Linked DNA regions of Homo sapiens. The protein of the gene in region 1 interacts with the protein of each later gene in a pairwise test. Each region holds a gene or a part of one and is shown in the gene's direction. Other genes may lie near its edges.

Region 1 (7,160 bases):
TAAAGAACAGAAATTTATTTCTCACAGTTCTGGGGGCTGGAAAGTCCAAGATGAAGGTGCTGGCATGTTCAGCGTCTGGTCAGGGCCTGGTGTCTCCTCCCGAGATGACAGCTTGTTACAGCATCCTCCAGAGGGGAGGAACATGGTGTCCTCACACAGCAGAGAGACAAAAGGGGAAAAGGGACCAAACTCCCTCCATCAAGCCCTTTCACAAGGCACTGAGCCATTCACGAGGGCGGGGCCTCACGATCCAAGCCCCTCTCCAAAGTGCCCCCTCCACTGACGCACTAGGCAGGTCAGTCTCTAACACACGCTTTTGGGAGGTCACGGGCAGGGGACAGCAGAGTCCCAAGCCAGTCTGATTCTTTCCTTTTGTTGTTGTTGTTTGTTTGTTTTTGAGACACAGTCTCGCTCTTGTTGCCTGGGCTGGAGTGCAGTGGCAGGATCTCTGCTCACTGCAACCTCTGTCTCATGAACTCCAGCAATTCTCTTGCCTGGCCTCCTGGGTAGCTGGGACTACAGGTGCACGTCACTACGCCTGGCTAATGTTTGCATTTTTAGTAGAGACAGGGTTTCACATGCTGGCCAGGCTGGTCTCAAACTCCTGACCTCAGGTGATCCACCCACCTTGGCCTCTCAAAGTGTTGGGATTCCAGGCATAAACCACCGCGCCCAGCCTGATTCTTTCCCTTTGTTAGCAGATTCTTTCTAAATGGGTATCTGTAAACTTTCCTCTTTCTCTGTTTCTATAGTTTGGGTGTTGGTCCCCTTCAAACCTCAGGTTGAAATCTGAGCCCCAGTGTTGGAGGTGTCTGGGTCATGGGGGCAGATTCCTCACGAACAGTTTGGTGCTGTCCTCTTAGTAATGAGTGAGTTTTCACTCCTACTAGTTCCAGCAAGAGGTGCTTTTAAAAACACCTGCACGGCCGGCACGGTGCCTCATGCCTATAATCTCAGCACTTTGGGAGGCTAAGGCGGGCGGATCACGAGGTCAGAAGTTCAAGATCAGCCTGACCAACATGGTGAAACCCCGTCTCTACAAAAATACAAAAATTAGCCGGGCATAGTGGCGCATGCCTCTAATCCCAGCTACTCAGCAGGCTGAGGCAGGAGAATCGCTTGAACCCGGGAGGCGGAGGTTGCAGTGAGCCGGCATTGCGCCACTGCGCTCCAGCCTGGGCAACAGAGCGAGACTCCATCTTAAAAAAAAAAAAAAAGGCCTGTACTTCCCTACTCCTCCAGCTCCCTCTCGCACACGGTCTGCACACACTCCAGCTGCCCTTCACCTTCTGCCATGAGTGGAGGCAGCGGCAGCAAGGCCCTCACTAGAGGCAGACGCCCGATCTTGAACTTTTGAGACCTCAGCATCGTGAGCTGTGTTAGGCTGTGGTTGCCTTGCTATAAAGAAATACTTAGGACTGGGCAATTTTAAAAGAAAAGAGGGCCGGCATGGTAGCTCATGCGTGTGATCCCAGCACTCTGGAAGGCCAAGGTGGATGGATCACTTGAGCTCAGAAGTTTGAGACCAGTCTGGGCCAGTAAGACCCCATGTCTACAAAAAATATGAAAAATTAGCCAGGTATGGTGGCGTGTGCCTGTAGTCCCAGCTACTCAGGAGGGTGAGGTGGGAGGATCACCTGAGCCCAGGAGGCAGAGGTTGCAGTGAGCCGAGATCACGCCACTGCACTCCAGCCTGGGCAACAGAGCGAGACCCTGTGTCAAAATAAATAAATAAATAAATAAATAAATAATGAAAAGAGGTTTACTTGGCTCCTGGTTCTGCAGGCTTTACAGGAGGCATGGTGCTGGCCTCTGCTCAGCTTCTGGGGAGGCCTCCGGAAGCTTCCAATCATGGTGAAAGGCAATGGGGGAGCGGGCACGTCACATGGCCAGAGCAGGAGCGAGCGAGCGAGTGAGCGAGAGAGAGAGGTGCCCCACACTTTTTAAATAACCAGATCTCAGGAGAACTCACTATCTCAAGGACAGCACCAAGGGGATGGTACTAAACATTCCTGAGAAATCCACCCCCATGACCCAGCCACCTCCAGCCTTGGGGTTTACAATTCAACATGAGGTTTAGTGTGGACAAATATACAAATTACCTCATGATTCTTCATAAATTTCCCAGCCTCAGGTGTTTCTTGATAGCAACAGTAAAGGAGCTAAGACACTGTGGCGTTCAGTTGTATCAGGACAGACCTGGGTGTGGGCTGGCCCTCATACGTCCTGCCGGGAGCTCTGGGGGCTTTCCAGTCTGCAGGTCGGGACGTCCTTCTACTCTGAGATGTTCTAGTATCATCAAACCGCCCCACAGACCATGCCTGGAGACTCTGCCTCACACATCCGTTCCCAGCGGTCACCAGCCCCGCATCCCTCCCTCGTCACCGCATCTGTGCGTCTCCTCTGTGACGGAGGCTGTTCCTTGGCAATGACTATCCTCAGCTTCAGCCCCCTGCTGACAGTTTTCTAGCTCAGAACCTGGCCATGTCTGCACCCTCCCTGTCTTCTCGGAAGGGGTGCTGTCATTCCCTGGGCTACACACCTGCTTTGTCCTCCTCTCTCTGACCCCAGGGCTCCAGGGTACCACTGTCCTCTTCCTTTGTCAGTTTGTTGTGGCTGGGGCTGGTGGTGGGGGAGCCACAGCAATCAGCCTGCCTCACCTTGCCCAGCCCGCATGTTCCCAGGGCTCCTGCCATCCCCACTACACCACAGCCCAGTCCGTGTGCACGGGTTATAGAGTCAAGACACAAACACACAAAAGCCAGGCAGACGGGCACAGTACCTGCCGCAGCTGCATGAAGCTTGGGGCACTATGGGTGAGAAGAGCTAGAAATGTTGGGGCCATCAGAGCCCAGGAGGACCAGCCGAGGGAGGAGCAGCTGACAGGTGGGCAGGTGCCCCTAGTCAGGGACAGCAGGACTCCCCAGGAAGAAGGATCACAGCCACCCGTGGGAGAGCTGGACTCTGTTCATCAACAGAAAAGCCGTGAGCGATTCCGCCAACAAGGTCAGTTTTACTAGTCTGGCAGCCCCCCACCCCCGGCTTCTGTAACTCAGAAACTGGGCAGTTCCGACTGCCCATCCCTCATTAGTGACTGATGGTGGTCTGGCCGGCGGCATCTCCTGTCTCCAGGCCCTGCTATGTAATTTCGGGAATGGACGCCCGTCTCCCCGACCTGACCTCCAGCTGTTTGGAGCTGAGGGGTGGAGAGGAAAGACTGGGGGGTGGAGAAAGGCGAGCACCACTGTGGGGCCTGTGGGGGCTGCTTTCCTCTTCTGCAGTGACCTGGACGGGCTGAGGCTGCTGTCTCACTCACACGGCGGTGCCCACACCACAGCCCTGGTATGCTAATGCGTCAAAACACACCTTCACCTGTTTCACATTCTTGAGTTTCAGCGAGGATGCGACAGGTCTCGAGACACATGGACGTGGGACCATGGGGACGGGTTCTTCAAGGTCCCCATGCACCTGCAGCCTGGGGGGGCTTGTCTGAAGGGCTTTCTTCCCAGTGATGGGAATCAAAGGCCCCGATCTTTGAAGCTGGCCATCAGCCTGAACGTCCACTCCTTGTTTCCTTTGCAAGGAGGAACATTCAGATCCAACACAGATAAGAATGTTGACTCCGTCTCCAGGCCGCAGGGACTGGAGGGAGGCAGGTGGTCTGGCCTCATTTTGTGAAAGGTGGTGGCTTTGTCCTCAATCTTCAGGCTGGACATCAGGACCTCCCAGGGCGCGGGCCTGCTCTGTCTCTGGCCTTAGGTGTCAGGAGGTAAGGCCGCAGACGCTGACGTACTGGGATGCCCCAAGCCCGGGAACTGGCAGCCCAGTGAGGGGGTCTCACCTGTGTCCCCTGAGCCTGGCCTGTCACTCTGTCCACGCCTCAGCTACCTGTCCCCTCCTGCAAAGGGCACCGCCTGTCGCGAGGAACTCACCTGGCTTCCTCGACATCTCGGGGGACACACGAAAAGCCCCCGCGAGAGCAGCAGGAGCCTGCACGTGGAAGGGGCTGGCGGCCCGAGGTCCCGGGGTAACAGGAGGGCAGAGGGGCTGGGCACGGCGCAGGGTCGGGAGGAGGCCTGGAGCGCTCGCCCCGCCCGGCCCCGCCCCTGGAGCGCCGCGGCCCCGCCCCGCCGGGTTGCTAGGGGAAGTGACGTCACAGCGCGATGGCGGCGGCTCCTTTAGGCAGCTGAAAGGGGATTTAGGCCCGGAAGATCCGAGTCCATCCGCGGCGGGGAGAGGGCAAGCGGGACCGGTAGGGGCCGGAGCAGCGGCGGCGGCGCTCGGACTGTCCCATCCGCCCCGTATTGAGGCGCTGGGAGCGGCGGGGCGACAGGAAAGCGATGGTGAAAGCGGGGCCGTGAGGGGGGCGGAGCCGGGAGCCGGACCCGCAGTAGCGGCAGCAGCGGCGCCGCCTCCCAGAGTTCAGACCCAGGAAGCGGCCGGGAGGGCAGGAGCGAATCGGGCCGCCGCCGCCATGGAGCTGAGAGTCGGGAACAGGTACCGGCTGGGCCGGAAGATCGGCAGCGGCTCCTTCGGAGACATCTATCTCGGTGAGGCCCCGCCGCCCCCGCCCGCCGCCCGAAGACCCGGGCCCTGCGGCTGCCAAGACCAAGCGCGATCGCGGAAGGAAGTGGTGGCCCCCGCGGGGTCTCCGCGCAAGTCCCGGCACCGCCGGATCGTGGCCAGAACCCAACGGCCACTAGGCTAGCGCGGCCAGGGGTGGGGAGGGCAGTGGGGAGCGGACGTGGGGGAGGGGCAGGACCAGGTCGGGGGAGCAGGGTCTGGAGAGGGGAGGGTTGGGGAAGGAGGGGATAGGGGAGCTGACCCGGGGTGGGGCATGGTCTCTGGGGAGCCGACCTGGGTAGGGGCAGGGTCGTGGGGAGCGGACTCGGGAAGGGCTGGGTGGGGCGTGGGGAGGCGGGCCTGGGGGAGGGGCAGGGCGGGGGTGGGGGCAGCGGGCCGTGGGAGGGGAGGGGGTAGGGCTGGGGCCGCGAAGCGGGCGTCGGCTTCCTCTACGCCTAAGGTCACCGCAGTAAACAAAGGCCACGCTCTTTCTTCCGCAGCCCGGTCCGGGGCTGTCTGGCTGCCCCCTCAGAGGCTGCCCCGGTGTCTTGCATTCGTGGGGGAAAATGTCAGAAAGACCCAAATGCCGTGTGGAGCGGGGGAGTGGCCCGGCTAGGAGTGGGGCTTGCCCTCCCGCTGGGGGTTCTCTCTGAACGGTTCCCCTTGGCCTTGGAGCGGTGACTGAGTGCAAATGAGCAAGGGTTAAGTTTAGGTGAATGTAGAGAAAGTCACACAGGATTAAGATGCTGGCAAGATGAGAGGCAGATGAGGTAGTTGTACTCATGAGGTGTCCTTTAGACTGTAACAGTCTCAAGGTAGATTTCAAAAACAATGGGATTAGAAGGTTTTGGGTTGTGTCATATTTACAATGGAAAAATATGCACGTGAACACAAGTGTGATGAAAGGTTGGCTTAAATCTTCAAGTTTGTAATTTTTTTTTTTTTCCTGAGACGGAGTTTCGCTCTTGTTGCCCAGGTTGGAGTGCAATGGCGTGATCTCGGCTCACCGCAACCTCTGCCTCCCAGGTTCAAGCGATTCTCCTGCCTCAGCCTCCCGAAAAGCTGGGATCACAGGCGTGCGCCACCACGCCTGGCTAATTTCGTATTTTTAGTAGAGACGGGGTTTCTTCATGTTGGTCAAGGCTGGTCTCGAACTCCGGACCTCAAGTGATCCGCCCAGTTCGGCCTCCCGAAGTGCTGGGAAGCCACCGCGCCTGGCCCAAGTTTGTAATTTTAAAGTAACTTAATTTTCCGCACTTGTTAGTGGGATTGTGCAATGCACGAGTTATTCCAAGATCCCCTGAATTTGAGGATATGTAGCCTGAGGCGGTGTGCCTGCAGAGGGGCTGCTGCAGACCTTTGAGGGGAGCTGTTTTCTGTTCCAGCAGCCCTAGCTTTGGGGTGTGTTTTAACTGGGGCACCTGTCAGCTAGGGTCAGGAATCCCCTGGGATGTCAGTAATGCCTCTGGTCATACCTTTTAGATGAAGCCACATGTGGACAGTCTCCAGTTCTCACACCCTTCCCACTTGTCACCAGAGAGAGGACTCAGGACCCGGTGGGCTGACAGCGTTAGGACGAATCCACACATATGGGTGGCTCATACTTTCGGTGCCTGGTTAACCTGCCAGGTGACCCTGTCACATGCCATATTGTTGCTTTTGAACCTGTACATATGCCTTAGTGGACTGCTGAGTAAGCAGGCTTTAGACATTTGGGTTTGGCTATTAAACATTTATACCAGGTGGTCAGCTGGATGTGTTCTTGGCAGTGTTTGGGAAGTCAGAGTGCTTGGTCAATGGAAGTCGTTTGGCTTATTTATAGAACAATGGATTTTGGCGAAAGTTTTAACCCCAGGATCTGAGTTACACTGCAAAGCCAGTCCATTAGCCACCTTTAGGCAGGCATCAAAAAGGAGTATTTTGGGCCGGGTGTGGTGGCTCACGCCTGTAATCCCAGCACTTTGGGAAGCTGAGGTGGGCGGGTCGCTTGAGGTCAGGAGACCAGCCTGGCCAAAGTGGCGAAACCCCATCTCTACTAAAAATACAAAAATTGGCCAGGCGTGGTGGTGGCTGCCTGTAATTCCAGCTACTTGGGAGGCTGAGGCACGAGAATTGCTTGAACCTGGGAGGCGGAGGTTGCAGTGAGCCAAGATCACACCACTGCACTGCAGCCTGGGCGATGGAGTGAGACTCTGTCTCAAAAAATAAATAAATAAGAAGTACTTTGAAACTATCTGTTCTCTGATCTGAGACCTTGTCAAACAACTTTGTGCTTTCCAAAGATAGATTAAGACAAATTTTGGTGTGGTTGTCACCAAGTAATTCCAGAGGTGGAGGGTGGAAGGCTGTCTCCTCACTCAGCATTCTACCCTCCAGGCCTCACCTCGCGCTGGGCATACAGTCATGCTGGATACGGGATTGCGGGCGGCTGTGGCTCTGACACCCTGGGGTTGGAGCCCCCAGACAGCCGTCCCAGACAGCCACCCATCAGGGTACACGTCCAGTTACTTGAGTGGGGTTAGGCACAGCTGATTTTTTTTTTTCCCATCAGCATTGGCTCCTAGCCTACACTGTGGTCCTTTCAGACGACCCCACGG
Region 2 (7,787 bases), on another chromosome or scaffold:
GAAGTGGCAGACCTGGGGCAGGATCCCAGGTCTCCTAACCCCCAAGTGAGGGCATTTCACACTCCATAGCACAGCAGGGCTGAACTGGGCTGAAGCAGATTAGAGGTGGTTTGGCAGGGTGTAGGGGGTGGTCAGAGCTCAGGAGTCCCTTTTCTGAGTGTCAGGGATGCTAAGACAAGGGAGGACAGCCCTGTAGCCCACCTGGGCATCACTGTTATTACAGGCTCAGCAGCACCTAAGGGAGAGGAGAACAAGACGGGAAGGGAAAGGCAGGGCTGTAGTTAACACACATCCTCCATCCCACCAGCCCTTCAGGCCTGGTCTTGCAGGCACTGGAGCTGGTTCCATGGGTTGCCAGAGGAAGCCTGAGAGAGGGAGGCTGGGAGAGGGGGCGGGGAACCTGATCCTGTGTATATGTCAATACCCAACAAAAACTTGTGTAGGGGGGTGGGGTGCATTTGGGTTACTGGAGTTACACAGACATGTGTGTACATGGATTGTGTGAAGGGGCTGCTCAAGTGCCGTGTGTGCACCATGTATGTGGGTGCACATACGCCTGTGTATATAGCGAGTCAGTGGGCTTGTGTCTCCTGGGTATTGTGCCAGGCATGTGGGTGAAGGCGCTGGAGTTCCTATGTGGCTTCGCTCAGCACCAGGATTGCAGACGGGTAGGGGCGGGCCTGCTCTGGGAGGAGGAGGGGAGGAATCATGTGCCCACCCACCCCCACATGGACCGGCTGCCCACCCTCCAACGTGGCAGCACGCAGGACAGCCCTTTTTGGATGGAAGGCCCCACGCTCCAAGAGAGAGAATCCAAGATTACAGAAATCGTGTTTTCCTGACTCATGCCTTGGGCTGAGAGCACATTCTTGGCTCCTGGACAGCATCTCAAAGAAGAGCTGCCTATAGCAGCCCTGGCTCCCTGAGGGAGGGGGCCGACCCTGGACTGGCTGTCGGAGCTTTCTGGGCTCCAATTTTATACCAATGTAAAAAGAAGGGGATTAAACTTCCTTCCGATTAACGTTCTATAATTAAAAGTGAGACACTAATGACGGTGCCCAGCACAGGCCTGGCAGCGGCAAAATGGCCCATAAATGTCACTTCCTTCTCGTCCACTCCCTGCCTTCCCGTGGATATGGCATAAACAGACCTGATTCAAAACCCAGCTCTGACTCTGGCTTGTTGTGTGCCCTTAACCCTGTTGCTTAGTCTCCCTGATCCTCAGTTTCTTCATGCTGAAAATTGGAACATTCTTCCTTACCTGAAAGGAATAAATATGATAATAAATGTGAATGTGTTGCACACTTAAATGACATGCAAGTTTTTGTCCTAGGATTCTATGGGGTGAAGACTGAGTGAATCTAGCCACTGGGGCCAAAGAAAGCTGTTTCCACAGCACCTGGCAGAACTGGGCCTACATACCCCCCTGGGTCATTAGAGGGTACTGTGGGAGAAAGAGGGCTGGGAGTCCAGGGCTTAGGCTCCAGCCCAGCCCCACCTCTGATATGCTGTGTGACCTTGGGTAAATTCCTGCCCTCTCTGGGCTTCCGTTGTCCTCTCTGTATAGTGTGGATGCAGTTGGACTTGATGGTTTTCTACTTTCTGCTGTCCACACCTCTCGGGACCTAGGGATCTAGAGGATTTCCAGCCAGCCTCCACGTGCCAGGCACCAGGACCACTTCCTTCAGTGAAGCGAGGCACTGGAGGAGTCCAGAGACAAAATGCTTGAGAGTTTCTCTGCTTATCAGACTCTTCTCCCCCACCCCCTAAAAGAGTGCTTTTTCCGGAAAGCTCTGCCTGGAATGTGGGGGAAGGGCCACAGTCAGTCTGGGCTGGGCTCAGAGCTAAGAATATTGTGGCAAAGGCTCTTGACTTTTTTTTTTTTTGCTGATCTTGGAAATTTAAAGGAGCCGTTGCTTTCCCTTCTTCAGGGAGGCTGTGCTAGGGGCACAGCAGCCTCAGGCAGCCACTTCTCATCCCCTGGCCAGCCATGCTTACCCAGTGCCTCTTCCATACTGTCCCCTTGCTGGAGCTGGGGACTCACAGTGACAAGGAAAAGGCCCTGCCCTTCCAAAGTCTCCAGTGATGGTTCACTGACAATACAGGGTGATAACAGAGATAATGCAGCAGTGGGATAGGTCACAGAGGAGGCTTCTGACCCGGTGTGAGATTAGTGGGGGTCGGATGGGGGTTGGGCCTTCAGACCCAGCCCTCCTTAGGCCTCAGCTTTGCTGTCTGTAAGGGCAGGTCCTCTCTTCAGTGACCACTCATGATACTGGGTCTATTTAACAGCATGAGCTTTGGTTTATCCCTCAAAATGGGACAGTCACAGCACTCTCAGTCTCCCCCTCAGGTGTTGGTGAAGCCTAAAAGAGCTAAGAGATGTAAGAGAGTAGAGGAAGGGAGTCTCACTGGGATTGTGACATCTGAACCTGCTGAAAACCCAGGCGACCCTCTCTGTTTTGCCAGCATTGATGGGCACTCTTTGTTTCTGCTCTGCCCTGCCCTCAGCTCACTGACCAAGTCACAAGGAAGCCTGAGGGCCAATGTGGGGGTGGGAGTAGAGAGTGGGGTCTGGCCTGGGACCCGGGAGGTCTCCTTGGATAAACAAGAATTTATCTTTTTTTTTTGAGATGGAGTCTCGCTCTGTCACCCATGCTGGAGTGCAGTGGCATGATCTCGGCTCACTGCAAACTCCACCTCCCAGGTTCAAGAGATTCTCCCGCCTCAGCCTCCTGAGTAGCTGGGATTACAGGCACATGACACCACAGCTGGCTAATTTTCATATTTTTATTAGAGATGGGGTTTCACCATTTTGGCCACGCTGATCTTGAACTGCTGACCTCAGGTGATCCACCCACCTCGGCCTTCCAAAGTGCTGGGATTACAGGCATGAGCCACCGCGCCCAGCCTAGAATTTATCTTTAAAAGCAATATACAGTTGAGGCAGGAGGAAGCACATGAGAACCACGACAGCCACCCCAAAGAGATGGACACCATGCCAAGGCTGGAAGCTTTTGTTAATAATCAGACCTGTCCTAAAAAAGAATGCGGGGCTGCCTCTGAAGGAGGTAAGCTCTCTCTTCTTAGAGGTGCCTCGGTGCTTGCCTTTTTGGGATACTGAGAAGAGGGCTTCTGCCTGGGGCTGCAGACAGGAACCCCTGACCTCTGAGATGCCTTGCAGCTCAGAGTCTTTAATACATTTATTCCAGAATCCTTCGACTCTGAGATTTTAACATGTTAAGATTCCTTAGCTGGATTCAAAGACTCCTTGGGGGCTTTGAGTGGAAGTAATCTCTGATTCCTTGACCCTGAATCACAGAGTCTGAAGCTTTTGGGATCTGAGATTTCCCACAGTCCTTGTACTCAAAAGACTCTGAGCTGCAGAAGCCTACCCAGACAGAGAGGTTTGTCACCACCACCAGGCTTCCCCACAACCACTAACAGAGGGCAGGGACCCAGGTGATTGACTCATTTGCTGGGTACTGGGATTTTTTTGCTCCCCAGGATCCAGGCAAGCACCTAGAAGAAAGAAGATACTCAATGCATTCATTCATGACTGAATGAATGAAGAGTCCCTACCCTGTCCCTTCCTCTCCATACTGCGTCCATCCAATAGCTATCATTAAACTACTAAAGAGGACTTTTCGGAGGGTAGGGAGCCTCGGCTGATCAGAAATTGAGCCACTGTCGCCCAGATTATTTAGGGTTTCCTAAATAATCTGCCTCACTGAATCACTGAATTCCCTACTAACAGGTACATACCCCACAGATGGACATCGCACAGGGCAAGGACTTTGTTCAGCTCTCAGCTGTGTCCTCAGCACCTAGAACAGTAATGAATACCCTAGCTTAACTTGGAGGTCAAGGAGCTATCAGTTTGCGAGGGTGGGGTAGGAATTGACAGTGAGACCTGAGGCCTGTGGGAGGGGACCCAAAGAGGGAGGGGATGCAATAGGGAGGGGGCCAGGGGTGACAAGGATTGAGGAAGGGAGAGAGGGGGGAAAAAAAGCAAGGGATGCCTTAGAACCACATTTCACAGCCAAGGGAACAGAGGCCCAGAAAGGGAAAGTAACCTGCTTAGGGTCACACAGCACCTTGCTCAGTGGAGAGCCAGGTTTTCCTTCCTGTGCACTCCTCCAAGCCCAGCCAGACCACCTGAAGTTCCCCAGGCATCTCTGCCTCTATTACTCCACGACTTGAACTTTCCGGGTGCCGGGCAGGTACCGGGTCTGGTCTGCTCCCTCTCCCTCTGGCCATCGCTGAGGTTGAGGTTTTTTGAATGTACAAGTATGGAGAAGGGCACTGCCTTCAGAAGCCTGAACGTCTCCCCTGAGAGGGAGGGGGTGCACAGGACTCAATTGTTTCAGCTTGAAAATGGGGGAGAGCGGGGAGAAGGGGAGATGGCTCTGCTTGGGGCAGAGCCCCTGCGGGGAAAGGGGCGCCTGAAAGGACGTGCGATTCGGAGTGGGCTAGCTTATGCAGAGAGCCTGGGGGTGGGAGGAAGCTCGCACTCTGAAGGACACGCTGATCCCCGTGGGGACTCCCGGCGCCCCGCAGCCCGGGCCGCCGAGGGAGGCAGTAGGACCCAGGGGCCGGGAGGCGCCGGCAGAGGGAGGGGCCGGGGGCCGGGGAGGTTTTGAGGGAGGTCTTTGGCTTTTTTTGGCGGAGCTGGGGCGCCCTCCGGAAGCGTTTCCAACTTTCCAGAAGTTTCTCGGGACGGGCAGGAGGGGGTGGGGACTGCCATATATAGATCCCGGGAGCAGGGGAGCGGGCTAAGAGTAGAATCGTGTCGCGGCTCGAGAGCGAGAGTCACGTCCCGGCGCTAGCCCAGCCCGACCCAGGTGAGGGGCGGGAGACGCCTGCGTGCGTGCGGCCCGGGGGAGCGCCGAGCAATCTGGGGGTGCGCGAGGGAGTAAGAGGGGCGAGGGGACCCTGCGAAGCGTTGGGTGCCGAGCCAGAGCCTACAAATTGGAGTCCTCGGCACTTTGGGGGCCGCTGGAGGGTTTGGAATCGAGAGCCCAGGGCTAGCCAGTGATGGTGCCAGCTGAGGGCTAGGGCGGAGATCGGAGCCGGGTTGGGAGTCCGTGCACTCGGAGGACTGGGAAAAAGTGCAGGGACCCCTAAAAGGTGGTGGTGGCAGATACGAGACTAGGTGCTGTGTAAAGGGGGCTGGGGGCAGAGAGCAGAGCCTCTGCGGAAAGAAACAGAGGAGGAAGGAGATGGGTCTGGTGCCTCTTCCCGCAAGGGTAGGGAGGATAGGCCGGCCTCGCAGTTCCAGGTCACTTCCGTTCTGGGGTTGAGGCTCAGGGGCAGCGGTGATTGGTGGCCCAGCCTCCTCACAGGCTTGCTGAGGGAATTTGAGCTTCCGGTGGTGGGAAAGGAGGTGAAATCGTCTCGACTCCTGGGGTCCGTGTGCTCTGGTAGAAGTGGGCGACAGTGGCTCAATTTCTGATCAGCAGCTTGCAGCCTAGATGATGGCAGCCAAAGGAAAGACTTGGCCAGCGAGGCTCCCTACCACTCCGAAAAAAGAGAGTGGGGGTCAGCAGGGTCTGCTCTGCTCTGGGGATTAAGGGGCTGACTAGAAGGATTTGAGTCTTTCCTTCTGTCCACTGCCACAGGGTTCTTGGAGTAACTGCAGGGTTTAAACTGCAGGGTCTAACTTCCAGAGGCTGGGGTTCCCTGCCCCCCAGCTTAGAGACATTCCTGAGGTGGCTGAAGAGCAGGAAGGAGAATGAATGCACTTCCAGACTGGCCCAGAGTCTCAGCCCCTCCTCTTCCTTGTTTCCCGCTGGTCCCTCTGGGCTGTACGGCCCGGATGGAGGCCTGAGGAAAATGAGGGGGCTTTGGTTCTCCGGAATTCCGGCCGGGGCCACACCCTCCTGTCTTCAGATGGTTCATGTACCCATCCCCCCTTCCCGTCCTCTCCTTTGTCTCCTCTGTCACCGGGACTCCCAGCAGAGATTTTTTTTTTGTACTGGCTGTGTAACAGGACACCGCATGCAGCCCTCAGGAGGGGCTCTGTGCTTCTGTGAGGAAGGACCCCTGTGCTGGGAAGGCAGACCCCTGTTTATCCCGAGGGACCTGGGGTGACCCCCTGCCCTGGCCTTGTTTCTCCCATTTTACAGTGAGGTGGTCGATCTCCAAGGTCCCTGTAGATTGGGGACTGGTTGTGCCCTCTGCGCCAGGGGCCTCCTCACCATCTCTCCTTTGCCGGCTCCCGCCCTCTTCACTCTTCTGTTTTCTTTCAGAATGAAAAAGGCAGGCATTGACCTCCCTCTGAGGCAGTTTCCAGGTACTTTAGACCTCTCAAGTGTTTGGGACCCTCTGGTGGGGTCCCATCATCTCCTCCCCTTCCCTTCCAGACCCTGCTCAGTCCAGCTAGCTGTGGGCACAGCCCTGGCTAGGTGATCTTGTATTTTCTTTGTGGGACTGTAACTCAGCTAACCTTGGCCTGAGGGCTGGCATTTCTCTGTGGCAAGATGGGCTGGGCTGTGGGAGGCTGGCCTGCTTGCAGTAACTTGCCTTCCCCCATTCCTGCTGCTGGGTTCAGTGGGGCTGCCCTTCTCCCCAGTAGCGCATTTCCCTTCAGAGATTCATGTGCGGATGGGAAGGGAACTAAGGCCAAGAAGGCTCCTGGAGTCCCCTGGCAAATATGTGGCACCCCCTGGGACCTGAGTCAGGCCTGCTTCCCAGGCTGGAAGCCCCCCTCTGCCGGCCGGTGGAGATAGTTCAGCCTCCTGCCTGCCACGTCACCACCAGGAGCAGGCGCTAAGCTGCTGCGGGCCTAGCGGGCTGCCTGAGGAATCCCAAACCAGTTATTTGGAGCTTGCTTGAGAAGCCCCTCCCAGTCCTTTGAGGTTCTGGCTGGTGGGGGTGGGGGCTGTCAAGATGGTACCTGCCACGTGGCATGGCTGGGAGTGGGCTCTTCAGCTGCCTCCTCAGGGAAGGAAGGCTGTTGGCCTCTGCTGTGGTCTGAGCTCCAGCATCACTGGTCTGGATCAGAGGTGGCTTTTGAGTAGGGTGGCCATATGCCTATTGTCCTGGCATAATAATTAGTAGTGCCCATTTTACTCTTATAAGTGTCCTTGTTTGTGCAATAAATTATATGGTTGCTCTGCCTTTGAGGCTCCAGTTCTGGCAGGGAAGGAGCCAGAGCTGGGAGGGAGGTGTCTTGGGGTTTATTCTAGGCCCCAAGATATCCCCTTCATTTTAGGGTGAGACTCAGATCTCCCCGCTCCTTCCAGACATTTTTAGATCTCTGGGCCTTCCCTCCTCTCCCCACCTCCCTCCCCTTGGACCCTTTGCTTATCTTATACTGCACCTTCAAGGCTCCGAGGAGGGAGGCAGTCCCGGGAGATGGGGAGCCTGTCCAGGTTTTTGGGATGGCAGCAGTAGAATCTTCCCAGAAATACAGTGGTCCCCAGGCAGCCAGAGTCCTGAGGGTCTTCCACCAGGATTTCAAATGTTCGGTCTTCTTCAAGGATGACTACAAGTTGGGATCTACCAGAGCAGTGGGATCGCAGCCTCCACCAGGATTCCTTCTATCCTTCCCTTTGCCCTGTCATCTCTCCTGTGCTGTTGCATGATGTAGAGGAGGATAATGGCCCGAAGGGAGAGAGGGAGTGTGGAAGTATCCCAGGAACAGAGACTGTCCAAATTGGAGGCCCCAGAGAGGGAACTGGGGCTTGTCCTTGGGGCCACTGCTACTGCTGGGGCTTGGGGAGGAGGCCTGAGGGCAACCCTGAAGCCGTGGAGCAGATGGCCTGTGTGGCAGTGGCTGTCAG

What was found. The genes of interacting proteins can lie anywhere in the genome.
Region 2: the proteins of CSNK1D (region 1) and SERPINH1 interact in binary tests that used the Homo sapiens proteins (3 or more experiments, as listed by UniProt).

What each region holds. Positions count from the first base shown.
Region 1 is NC_000017.11:82,270,696-82,277,855, reverse strand, and holds the start of CSNK1D (casein kinase I isoform delta), read left to right. Parts: upstream 1-4,155; 5' UTR 4,156-4,474; coding exon 4,475-4,550; intron 4,551-5,753; exon of another isoform or gene 5,754-7,160. UniProt on the Homo sapiens protein: Essential serine/threonine-protein kinase that regulates diverse cellular growth and survival processes including Wnt signaling, DNA repair and circadian rhythms. It can phosphorylate a large number of proteins.
Region 2 is NC_000011.10:75,557,476-75,565,262, forward strand, and holds the start of SERPINH1 (serpin H1 isoform 1 precursor), read left to right. Parts: upstream 1-4,777; 5' UTR 4,778-4,844; exon of another isoform or gene 4,845-4,903; intron 4,904-4,997; exon of another isoform or gene 4,998-5,541; intron 5,542-6,251; exon of another isoform or gene 6,252-6,295; intron 6,296-7,787.